Regions from separate parts of the Homo sapiens genome. Here regions 1 and 2 are each linked to region 3. The links come from fine-mapping of genetic effects on gene expression. A gene starts in region 3. Each other region holds a variant in brackets. All regions are shown on one strand. Distances are from middle to middle.

Region 1 (4,242 bases), 26 kb after region 3:
AAGAGGTACCGGCAGAGAGAGAAGCCTGTTGTACATCTGGGCAAGGGTCTCGGTGAGGGAAGTTCATGTAATTTTTAAGCATAATCGTTGGGAGAAAATAAACAGCCTCTTTCATGTTAACCTTGCAAACTCAAATAGACAAAGTGAAGGCCAATGACTGGCGGTACTGCCTGGCTGAGGCTGGATGTGACTGCCTTGCCTGGGAACCTGTAGCCTGCCTCAGGTTTGCCTTTTATTCTCTTTACTTTCTAGTAACAGTGCTCACAGGACTTTCAATAAGCAAAGCCCAGAGGGGGAGAGTTGCTTTTGAAGCCACACTCTTGTCTGCCTCATTCATTTCAAACAGAGACACTTCTGAAAGAGACGAAGGCCTGTGTACAAACAACAATGCCCACTGCATTCTGTTGCCTTCAGCTGTGATGTGGTGGCTTTTGATTCTACACAGAAGGTCCTTGTTTCAGACACTGATTGATGGGTCTTCTGAATGGAGGAGGCAGCAAGAACAAATGAGCAAGGCCCCTGGTAAGGCCAGGTGCTTCAAGAGGATGGGCTGGAAAGTGCTTAAAATAAAAGGTAAACACAAGCCTCCACAACAGCAAAAAATACCAAGGCACTGAGTTCTGAGTGGTTGATAATTGGTAGTTCCTAAGGATTTCCACATGTTTGTGCAAACACATATAAGCTCCTTGGAGAACTCTGACCTGGAATTTCAGACTTTTTGGTGGAGGAACCAAAAGTTAAACCCAAATAGATGTCATAAAACAGGTAAAAGTAATTGAAATAAAGAGCACTGGAGGTCTGAGTCTGGTTTGAGGCAGTGAAACAGAAAATAATGCAGTGAAAGAACAGGTGATGGGGCATCTCCGTCTCAGAGAGGGTTGTGATTTTTCACCAGAAACCCATGGAAAGCCACATAAAGGCTCATTCTAAACACAATGGACAGTGTTAGGACCTGCTGTGAGGAAGCTGTATGAGATGTGCCTCCCTTCTCCATCAACCCTTGTCCTTCCGTTTTGCCTAACAGAAACAAACCAGTGAAAAATCCACATGAGAAATCTGGCTATACTCAGTACTTTTGCAAGAAAACACTATGAAACTCCCTGTGAGTCTGCATTCTTCATAGTCCGTGGGGGAGCGTGGTGCAGGCTGAGGAGATGGGGTGGGGATAGTGAGGGTGGAGGGAGAGGACGGGAAAGTTAAATGAAGCAGGGATCCTTGTCCTGATCAGTGGTTTTTATACATTATGTTCTTATAAAAAAATAATTTTCACCAGCTAGATGATGTTCTACTGTTTAACTAAATTAGGGGTGTTAAAATAGAGATCATAAGAATGACGGAATGGACTCTTTGTGGCAAAAAGATACTAAATTATAAACAAGACCCAAGGCCATGCCAGGGTAGGGTTAAGTCACACATCCCAACACTTAAAGAATAAACTAGGTTCTAATAGCTGCAAGGTTTTTCTTTTTCTCTAGCCGCTAAATAAGCACTGGCCTCTGGAGAAGCAATATTGAAATAATTGCAGCTCACCAACCACCAGACACTAACTCATCCATCTCCCTACCCCTTTTCTGCAAGCCATAACTACTACTTTGATTGGATAAGAGACTGATTTCAGTAACTTTCTCCTGGTTAAGAGTCCACTGACCATAGACTGGTTCTGGCCAGTTTACAGAGGCTTGCACAGAGTGCCTTCCTGTCCCCTGCTTCACCATTTGACCTATAGGACCTAATTGCAAGGAATTTAAATGTTAAGTCTGTACCCCAAAGTGAACATGGGACGCATGTAACATGCATGTTTGTTTACTAGGCATGTGTGTACCTGCCTTCGGGAATATTCATAGCTCTTCCTATAACCTGTTGAATATGTGTACTTAGCTAACCCGTTCATCACAAATTCCTGTTCTACTCTTTCCTCCCTCAAAGTGCCTGCTTTTGGTTTCTGCTGGAGGCTGTGCTTCCAAGCCTGTGGGATTTCCAGCCTGCAGGCTGCAACCCTTTATAAAAAACAAACCTCTCCTCTCCAATATTATAGCTCTGTGAATTTATGTTGACAGGTTAATAACTCA[A/G]TTTCACAGAAAAAAATTAAATCAGACACTCTTTTTTGCCCACCCAACAGCCCTTCTCTCCTTTAACTTTTCACTTGCAGAGTCCTACTTTTGATTGGCAGTCCACCTGTCCCTGTCATGATTCAGGGAAACTTGACCCTATCCTGAACTCCAGGAATAAGTCCTAATTACATATTTTTTAGTGGTAACTGTGGTAGGTAAAATTTTAAGATGGTCTTATGATCTTTACCCTCTGGTGTCACATCCATGAGTATGGCAAAAGGCTTATTATCTATATTATTATCTAATCACATGAGCCCTCTTTGGCTAGTGGCAGAAGTGGGGAAGTCAGAGAGATTCAAAGTATGAAAAGGATTCAGTACATCATTGCTGACTTTGAAGATGGAGGGTGCCAGGTACCAGGACTGAGAGTGGCCTTTGGCATTGAGACTAGTCCCTGGTTGACAGCCAGCAAGGCCATGGAGACCTCAGTCCTACAATTGCAAGGAGCTGAATTTTGCTCACAACCTGATTGGGTGTGGAAGTGAATTCTTCCCAAGTCTCTAGATGAGAGGTTAGCCCTGCTAACACTTTGATTCTAGCCTTGTAAGTACATGAGCAGAGAACCCACTCAAGCCTTCCTGGACTTCTGACCTATATAGAACTGTGAGAATCTAAGTGGGCATTGTCTTAAGCTGCTAAGTCTGTGGTTATTTATTTTGCAGCAATAGCAAACGAGTAGAGCAACAGATATATAGTGTCAAGAAATCCAATCCATATTTCTGTTCAAGAGGAATTCGTTTTCAGCTCTGACCCTGACCAGGAATCAGAAAGTTACCTATGGTAGAAGGGGTGGATTAGTTATCCAATAACCCTCTTGACTTTTTTCCTTATGCACAGCACCACACACCCACTATGAAGGTCACAAATACTGGATTCTTGCTTTCCTAGCTACCCTTGCTGCTGGAGTGGTCATGTGACTGGGATATGCCTTTGGCCACAGACCTCTGAGAACACTAGACTAGAGCTGTAGCAGCCATTTTATAGCCACGAGGCAACAAGTCTAAGGATGGTAGAGTGGAAAGAAAGGAAGGTCTTGTTTGTTTCATGACAATTTTGAGCTAAGGTGCCATCTCTGGAATTGCCTGCATTCACATCTTTTGTTATATAAGATAATTAAATGTCTTTATTGCTTAAGTCTTTGTTAGTTGGGTTTTCTCTTGCTTGCAACTGAACATGTCCTTACTAATACATTACCCTTCCCAACAAAAAGTATAGAAGGCAAAATGCAGAGACATCTGAGGTAGAGCGAGTACAGAGTTGAGGATCAGGCTTTTGGCACAAGTAAGAAAAATTACGTAGGTATTCAGGGGCATGAAGACAAGTCGCCTTTGGGTGACATCTAGAACTATTAAAAACTAGTGAAATTCACACATTGGGAGACTTCCATCTCAAGATGTTCTCTGACTCTCCGTTTTCTATTTTTTGAGATTCTTGCCCATTGCGGAAAAGTACAGATGGTCATGGACTGATGATATACTAAGCCTTAGTCTTATGACTGGGATCATTCCTCTGACCCCAGTGAGCATCAGTTTACTCATCTGCAGAGTGCAGATAGGATAATAACCCCTTACGTCACTTGGTTTTGTGAGAATCAGATTTGAGTGTGTACGTGAACTTGCTTTGGAAGCTTTAAAGAACAGCTTTGGTGTGATGTCAGAACCTAGCTTGGTGTCTGGCACATAGTAGGTGTGCTCATTACATATTTGTTGGATTACTGTGCCGTGCCTATTTGTCTATACCAGCTTTGTTTGCACTGCACCATGAGCTTGCTGTCTGACTAATTGCTCCATATTGCATCTACTCTAGATAAAACTTAAAGGATTTTATTAAATGCTTTCTTCTTGGCAGTGGTATATTAGGTACTGCAGCCTGGATGGAGAATTTAGCATTTGTTTCCTATGTATTTTCCACTAAATATGCTGTGACAAGATGTCTGTTTTGATCAGGGACACTGTCAATTATTCCTCTCTCAGCCCGACTTTCTCTATGATGTAGGGTGTGAAGACATCTGTTGGCTTTAACCTATCACTCTTGTGTGAGATGCCTTGGCTTCACTCAACAGGGCTGTGTCCAAGGCAGGCTGGCCCCCCGTGAACTCTCAGGCTGCCGAGTCAGTCATCCGCCAGGTGAC
Region 2 (4,242 bases), 64 kb after region 3:
TATCAACCAAACCATCTACAAGCATCTGCAGGAATCTACTGGTTAGCAAGCATGCTCCCAGACATTTGGGGTGGGAGGAGATACAAATAGAAAAATAGAAAAATACCAGTTTACAGCTATATAAGAAAGCTGCTAGTAACAACTCCAGACCAGTGCTAACAGAGATACACACACACGCATGCACGCACACACACACACACACACACACAGAGACAGAGAGAGAGAGAGAAAGAGAAAGCAAGCAAGCAGGGGAGACGGGGGAGAGTCCGTGTGAGAGTGAGCTTGTTCACTGGAGTGGTCACAGAAGCTTGGATGGGCCTGGGAGGATTCAGTTCATTATTTACTCAGGCAACAAGGATGTGGTGAACCAGAATCTGGGCTGGGTACAGGAAAAAGGCTACATTCCTGCAGATATTGATGGTCTAGCTGGAGAGATATATGCGCCAACAAGGATTACAGTGAGTATAGCAAGTGCTACTGTAGAAGCCAGGGGTGCTGTAGGGCCCCAGAGAAAGGTGATGGACCCAACTGAGCACCAGGAGGAAGAGAGGATTTAGTAGGATATATGAGGCAGTGCAGTGATAATGTAAGGTGGCAGGTAGATCTGTAGGAGGGGCACCATGAGGGTACAAGTGAGCTGGAAGGAGGCGTGGAGAGAAGTGGGCATGGGGACTGGGGACACAGGGACTTCAGAGACACGTGGGATATGGGAGAATTTGCCTTGAGACTCTCACAGTGTCTTTCCAAACCTGTTGTACTTCACTGCATCCTTAGCATTCTCTCTCTTTTTTTTTTTTTTTAAACTTTAAGTTCTGGGATACATGTGCACAACGTGCAGGTTTGTTACATAGATACACGTACCATGGTGGTTTGTTGCACCCATCACCCTGTCATCTACATTAGGTATTTGTCCTAATGCTATCCCTCCCCTTGCCCCTGACTCCCTGACAGGCCCCAGTGTGTGATGTCCCTCTCCCTGTGTCCATGTGTTCTCATTGTTCAACTCCCACTTATGAGTGAGAACATGCAGTGTTTGGTTTTCTGTTCCTGTGTTAGTTTGCTGAGAATGATGGTTTACGGCTTCAACAATGTCCCTGCAAAGGACATGAACTCATCCTTTTTCATGGCTGCACAGTATTCCATGGTGTATATGTGCCACATTTTCTTTATCCATTCTATCATTGATGGGCATTTGGATTGGTTCCAAGTCTTTGCTATTGTGAATAGTGCCACAGTAAACATACGTGTGCATGTGTCTTTATAGTAGAATGATTTATAATCCTTTGGGTGTATACCCAGTAATGGGATCGCTTGGTCGAATGGTATTTCTGGTTCTAGATCCTTGAGGAATCACCACACTGTCTTCCACAATGGTTGAACTAATTTATACTGCCACGAACAGTGTAAAAGTGTTCCTATTTCTCCACATCCTCTCCAGCATCTGTTGTTTCCTGACTTTTTAATGATTGCCATTCTAACTAGTGTGAGATGATATCTCATTGTGGTTTTGATTTGCATTTCTCTAATGACCAGTGATGATGAGCTTTTTTTCGTATGTTTTTTGGCCACATAAATGTCTTCTTTTGAGGAATTTCTGTCCATATCCTTTGCCCACTTTTTGATGGGGTTTTTGTCTTTTTCTTGTAAATTTGTTTGAGTTCTGTGTAGATTATGGATATTAGCCCTCTGTCAGATGGATAGATTGCAAAAACTTTCTCCCATTCTGTAGGTTGCCTATTCACTCTAATGATAGTTTCTTTTTCTGTGCAGAAGCTCTTTAGTTTAATTAGATCCCATTTGTCAATTTGGGCTTTTGTTGCCATTGCTTTTGGTGTTTTAGTCATGAAGTCTTTGCCCATGCCTATGTCCTGAATGGTATTGCCTAGGTTTTCTTCCAGGGTTTTCATGGTTTTAGGTCTTACATTTAAGTCTTTAATCCATCTTGAGTTAATTTTTGTATAAGGTGTAAGGAATGGGTCCAGTTTCAGTTTTCTGAAGCCATTTTTCCCAAGGCCACTTATT[A/C]AATAGGGAATCCTTTCCCCATTTCTTGTTTTTGTCAGGTTTGTCAAAGATCAGATGGTTGTAGGTGTGTAGCATTATTTCTGAGGCCTCTGTTCTGTTTGATTATTCTATATATCTGTTTTGGTACCAGCAGCATGCTGTTTTGTTTACTGTAGGCTTGTAGCATAGTTTGAAGCCAGGTAGCGTGGTGCCTCCAACTTTGTTCTTTTTGCTAAGGATTGTCTTGGCTATATGGGCTCTTTTTTGGTTCCATATGAACTTTAAGGTAGTTTTTTTTCTAGTTCTGGCAACAAAGTATATGGTAGTTTGATGGGGAAAGCACTGAATCTATTAATTACTTTGGGCAGTGTGGCCATTTTCACAATATTGATTCTTCCTATCCATGAGCATGGAATGTTTTTCAATTTGTTTGTGTCCTCTCTTATTTCCTTGAGCAGTGGTTTGTAGTTCTCCTTGAAAAGGCCCTTCACATCCCTTGTAAGTTGGATTCCTAGGTATTTGATTCTCTTCGAAGCAATTGTGAATGGGAGTTCACTCATGATTTGGCTCTCTGTTTGTCTATTATTGGTGTATAGGAATGCTTGTGATTTTTGGACATTGATTTTTTATCCCAAGACTTTGCTGAAGTCGCTTATCAGCTTAAGGAGATTTTGGGCTGAGACAATGGGGTTTCCTAAATATACAATCATGTCATCTGCAAACAGAGACAATTTTACTTCCTCTTTTCCTGTTTGAATACCCTTTATTTCTTTCTCTTGCCTGATTGCCCTGGCCAGAACTTCCAATACTATGTTGGATAGGAGTGGTGAGAGAGGGCATCCTTATCTTGTGCCAGTTTTCAAAGGGAATGCTTTCAACTTTTGCCCATTCAGTATGATATTGGCTGTGGGTTTGTCATAAATAGCTCTTATTATTTTGAGATACGTTCCATCAATACCTAGTCAATTGAGAGTTTTTGGGAGAAAGGGGTGTTGAATTTTATTGAAGGCCTTTTCTGCATCTATTGAGATAATCATGTGGTTTTTGTCATTGGTTCTGTTTACGGTGATTGGATTACATTTTTTTGATTTGCATATGTCGAACCAGCCTTGCATCCCAGGGATGAAGCCGACTTAATCATCAGTGGATAAGCTTTTTGATGTGCTGCTGGATTTGGTTTGCCAGTATTTTATTGAGGATTTTCACCTCAATGTTCATCAGGGATATGGGCCTGAAATTCTCTTTTTTTGTTGTGTCTCTGCCAGGTTTTGGTATCAGGATGAGGCTGGCCTTATAAAATGAGTTAGCGAGGAGTCCCTTTTTTTCTACTGTTTGAAATAGTTTCAGAAGGAATGATACCAGCTCCTCTTTGTACCTCTGATAGAATTCAGCTGTGAACACATCTGGTCCTGGGCTTTTTTTTTTTTTTTTTTTTTTGGTTGGAAGGCTATTAATTACTGCCTCAATTTCAGAATTTGTTATTGGTCCATTCAGGGATTTGACTTCTTCCTGCTCGAGTCTTGGGAGGGTGTATGTGTCCAGGAATTTATCCATTTCTTCTAGATTTTCTAGCTTATTTGCGTAAAGGTGTTTATAGTATTCTCTGATGGCAGTATGTATTTCTTTGGGATCAGTGGTGATATCCCCTTTAACATTTTTTATTGTGTCTATTTGATTCTTCTCTTTTTTCTTCATTAGTCTGGCTAGTGCTCTATTTTGTTTATCTTTTCAAAAAACTGGCTCCTGGATTCGATGATTTTTTTGAAGGGTTTTTCACATTTCTATCTCCTTCAGTTCTGCTCTAATCTTAGTTATTTCTTGTCTTCTGCTAGCTTTTGAATTTGTTTGCTCTTGCTTCTCTAGTTCTTTTAATTGTGATGTTAGGGTGTCAATTTTAGATCTTTTCTGCTTTCTCCTGTGGGCATTTAGTGCTATAAATTTCCTTCTAAACACTGCTTTAGCTGTGTCCCAGAGATTCTGGTATGTTGTGCCTTTGTTCTCATCGGTTTCAAAGAACTTATTTACTTCTGCCTTAATTTCGTTGTTTACCTGGTAGTCATTCAGGAGAAGGTTGTTCAGTTTCCATGTAGTTGTACGGTTTTAAGTGAGTTTCTTAATCCTGAGTTCTAATTTGATTGCACTGTGGTCTGAGAGACTGTTTCTTATGATAGCCATTCTTTTGCATTTGCTGAGGAGTGTTTTATTTCCAATTATATGGTCAATTTTAGAAAAAGTGCGATG
Region 3 (4,242 bases):
AAAAACAGTCCTGGCCAATCCACAGTAGAATGGATAAAGGAAGTGTGGCATGGTCCCGCAGTGGAATGCTACAGCAGTGAGAATGAATGAGCCTCAACTCCACGAAACTGCATGGTTGACTTTCACAAACATAATGTCGAACGAAAGAAGCCAGACGCAAAAGAGCAACTGATGTGTTTCTATTAATGAAAAATCTCCCCAAAGGAAAAAATCATATATGTTAAGGCTCAAGGGGCACACAAGGAAGGCTTTGGGGTACTGGTTCAGTTTGTGAGAACTCATTGAGGATTTATGATAGAGGCCCTTTTCTAGAAGTGTGTTATAAACTTCATTAAAAAGTAAACAAACAAATACAACATTCCGGGGCAAAGGGCAGGAAAGGCCCTTTAGCAAAATCACTATGAACCAAGGGAATAAAGATTACCAGCAATTTTACCTGTATGGCTCTAAATTATTATGTAAGGGTCATTTTTGGATGTGGCTTTATAAATGAGATGATGTGTCAAAAATAATTAGTATAGTGCTTGGCACAGAAAATACTTAGTGAATGGCAATAATTAATACTGCTACTCAGTTATTAACTGGCCTATGAAGTAAAATAGTCAAATACAAAGGAACAGCCTTTTTCTTAAAGGGGAAAAAAGCTTCTGAAATTTTTAGGTACATCCCGTTAGGGAATTTCTAATTCTCAAAGTTGTCGGAGCTCTCTCCAAGGCTAGTCTTAGAGAAAAGAAAAATCTCAGACTCTACCTTAGCGTTACTAGCTCCTGACCAGTAACCAGTACCAAAACAAATTCCCAAACACCTGTCTAGTCTGGCCAAATTGTTCAATTAACTGATCCGTCATTTATTGGTCCACTGCTTAGCCTGGAAGCTGGGCTCCACTCTACTACCTTCCTGATAAGGCATTTGATCTGTCTTTCGCCATCAATCTAGTTTGTGAATTTACAAACAAAACAGGCAGGACGGCTGTTGGATTCTTCAGCCTCAGACTAAAATTTTGGCAGCAAAACAAAGTCTAGAAATTGTGCAATGATATCTCTACTTTAGACCTGACTGGAAATAGAACTCTCATAAATTCCCCTCTCTTCTGAGAGAGGCAGGCAATTAGACAACCCCAACCCGACAGAGCATTTCATTGCAAGCCTGGCTCCCCGGTTGCAAATTAGATGCCACATTAACTCTCAGGAAGATCTGAATCGCTTTCATATCATTTGCCGCTGAATAACTTTTAGCATGACTGTTTCCATATCAGATACGCAAGAGACTTCACTGCTAGCTGCAGGCACTCTTAGAAGACTTTTAATCCGAGGATGATTTTCTAAAATTTCATTTCTGTTTACAAACGGCTACGTGTCCCTGTGAACCTGTGAGGTCGTGTATAGAACCACCTGGCACGCTCTGAAGCAAGCTCTGTCCCATACAGTCAGAAACCCCTGGATTCTTTGTGACACACGTTTTAAAAAGAAAAGTTCATGCCCATCTCTGGAGAAAAGTCAGGCTCTTACCTGGTTTCAGGCTTTGTCCAAGGGCACTTGATTGGATAAAGATGCATAAAACCAACAGAATGGAGAAACACAGGGGACTTGTGTCCATTTCTCCGTTTCACCCGGGGTCCAGGCTTTCTTGGTAATTTCTGAAGCCAAAGAGACCACAATGCCTATTAGATACTTTGTTAGGGAAGACTGCCCATTAATAATTAACCTCTCAACATGTTATCCACTGTTCAGACCCTTTCTTTACTGCCCCCAACTGCAAATCTAATTATATCTATTTTAAAAAGGTCGATTTACAGAAGTGCTTCTTATCCTGACACATTTTGAGAATAAAATACCTTGTTATGTATTCTTACCTTTTGGGGCCAAGGTCAGAGTTCCAAATTAATCAACTTAAAGCTACTGTGTTGTGTTTGGAAATTCTGCCAAAGGTCGGGGTAGGTGGCTTCCACGTGGCTGCCTAAGCCTCCCTGTGACAGCGCTGCAAGGGGGATGCTGGCTCAGGAAAGTGGTGTTTCAAATTGCAGCCTAAGCCCAAAGAAAAAGAAAAGGGCCCTGCCACGCAGAGAGCCCCCAGAGGGTCCAAATTTCTGTTGGGTTCAGTGAAATTGGTGATGCTTGTGGTCAAAGTGTGGTGCAGAAAACCCTTCACCCCCGTGTCAAAAGGAGCTGACGAAGAAGCAAAGATGCCCTTGCCAAGTGACCCATTGAGAGGTGATCCTAGAGTAAACACACTTCTTCCCCCTCTGTGTTCATTAATGTTCCAGCTGTGTAGAGGACTGAAAAGTAAGGCCACTCAGCAAAATCAGGTAGGGAAAAGGCGACCATAGATGGCTTTTGTGATATTTTTGGACCTCTAGTTTTACTTTAACTTTCTTCATTTGTTCAACATTTATATATTTTGGTATGCCTACTAGGTGCCAAGCACTGTTGCAGGCACGTGGGGTATACAAGTCCTTATGTATCAGTGGAGGTTCTTACCTTCTGGAGTTGGATAACGGACAGTAGACATAATAAAGAAGAGATTTCTGGCCAGGAGCGGTGGCTCACTCCTGTAATCACAGCACTTTGGGAGGCGAGGAGGGCGGATCACGAGGTCAGGAGTTCGAGACCAGCCTGACCAACATGGTGAAACCCCATCTGTACTAAAAATACAAAAGTTAGCTGGGCGTGGAGGTGAGTGCCTGTAATCCCAGCTACTCAGGAAGCTGAGGCAGGAGAATCGCTTGAACCTGGGAGGCGGAGGTTGCAGTGAACTGAGATCGCGCCATTGTACTCCAGCCTGGGCGACACAGAGAGACTCCGTCTCAAAAAAAAAAAAAAAAAAATTAGGTAGACTGGTAGAATGTAATGGGAACCACTACAAGAAAAGCAGGGGGTTGGGGAGAAGGTAGGGATTTTAAGCAGAGTGGTTAGAGTGAATTGCATTGGGAAGTTAAACTTTCAGCAAAGGTTTGAAGGAAGTGAAGGAGTTGCCCCTGTGGACGTCTTGGGGAGGAGAGCTTCGGGCAGTCTGTGCAAAGGCCCTGAGGTAGGAGTATGCCTGGTGTGCTCCAGGAATAGCAAGGAGGCCAATGAATGGGGAGACATTGTAAGGACTTTGACTTTTATGCATTGACACATGGGGGGCGACTCTGAGCAGAAGGGTGATATGATTTGTATTATAGTTTTAAAATATCACTCTGGTTTGCAAGTGAGCCAGGGTGCAGTGGGGAGATCTGTTAGAAGGCTATTACAGTGGCCCAGTGAGAGGTGATGGTGGCGTGGCCCAGCATGGTAAAGGGCAACTGCGGAGTGGTGGATGGGTGGTGGATATATTTTGAAGGTAGAGCCCACAGGATTTTCTGACTGCTGAGTTGTGAGATGTGGGAGAAAGAGAGGAGTTAAGGATGACTTCCAGGTTTTTTGGCTTGAACAAGCAGATTAATGGGGTTGCTGTCAGCTGAGAAGGGGAAGCTGTGAGTGAAGCAGGTCTGTTGGGGGAAGATTAGAGATTCAGCCTTGGCCACGTGGGGCTTTGAGATGGCTCTTAGACATCCAAGTGGAAACGTTAAGCGGGCAAAATTAGATAACATGGTAATTATTGCCTGGACGAGCCTCATTCAAAGGGCCTTCTGAAGCCACCACCAGACTTGGACGATCTTGACCCAGTCTAAAGCTGTGTTCTGTCCTATGACTGTACCTTCCTCCCAAGCCCCGAAGCTTGCGGACCATCCCGTCAGATATACAATTTCTTTTTCTTTTTCTTTTTTTTTTTTGAGATGGAATCTTGCTCTGTCGCCCAGGCTGGAGTGCAGTGGCGCGATCTCGGTTCACTGCAACTTCCACCTCCCAGGTTCAAGCGATTCTAGTGCTTCAGCCTTCAGAGTAGGTGGGACTACAGGTGCCCACCACCATGCCTGGCTAATTTTTGTATTTTTAGTAGAGACGGGGTTTTACCATGTTGGTCAGGCTGGTCTCTAACTCCTGACCTTGTGATCCACCCACCTCGGCCTCCCAAAGTGCTGGGATTACAGGCGTGAGTCACCGTGCCCATCAGATATACAATTTCTGAGCAAGGACTTCTGCCTTGGATACTTGGCTGGCTCCTGCACAGTTAAGCAGAATCTGAAAGTTCCACTTTTTTTCCTATAAAGCTGGCACGTAAGACCAGCTGGCTACCCATCTCGGGCTCCTCTCCCCTGTGCCCACCCTCATCTCCTCTCCTCTGGGTACTGCCAGTAACCACCGCCACTCCCCATTTTAT

What was found. PIP is the estimated chance that this variant, and not a neighbour inherited with it, causes the effect. A credible set is the group of variants that fine-mapping cannot tell apart.
Region 1: its variant is the best candidate, but not a certain one, in a credible set for the expression of LIPC in whole blood (INTERVAL, PIP 0.57).
Region 2: its variant is the best candidate, but not a certain one, in a credible set for the expression of LIPC in whole blood (INTERVAL, PIP 0.81).

The regions. Positions count from the first base shown.
Region 1 is chr15:58,403,698-58,407,939 of GRCh38, reverse strand. No RefSeq gene overlaps it. Among named protein-coding and RNA genes, the nearest start is that of LIPC, 26 kb to the left of the region's middle. The variant A/G (reference allele first, on the strand shown) is at 2,070.
Region 2 is chr15:58,365,607-58,369,848 of GRCh38, reverse strand. No RefSeq gene overlaps it. Among named protein-coding and RNA genes, the nearest start is that of LIPC, 64 kb to the left of the region's middle. RefSeq lists an enhancer at 350-529. The variant A/C (reference allele first, on the strand shown) is at 2,023.
Region 3 is chr15:58,429,387-58,433,628 of GRCh38, reverse strand. It overlaps LIPC (lipase C, hepatic type), which reads right to left and starts at 1,638. Exons shown (of 9, transcript NM_000236.3): 1 at 1,509-1,638. The coding sequence starts at 1,596. RefSeq lists a silencer at 3,325-3,619 and an enhancer at 3,325-3,619.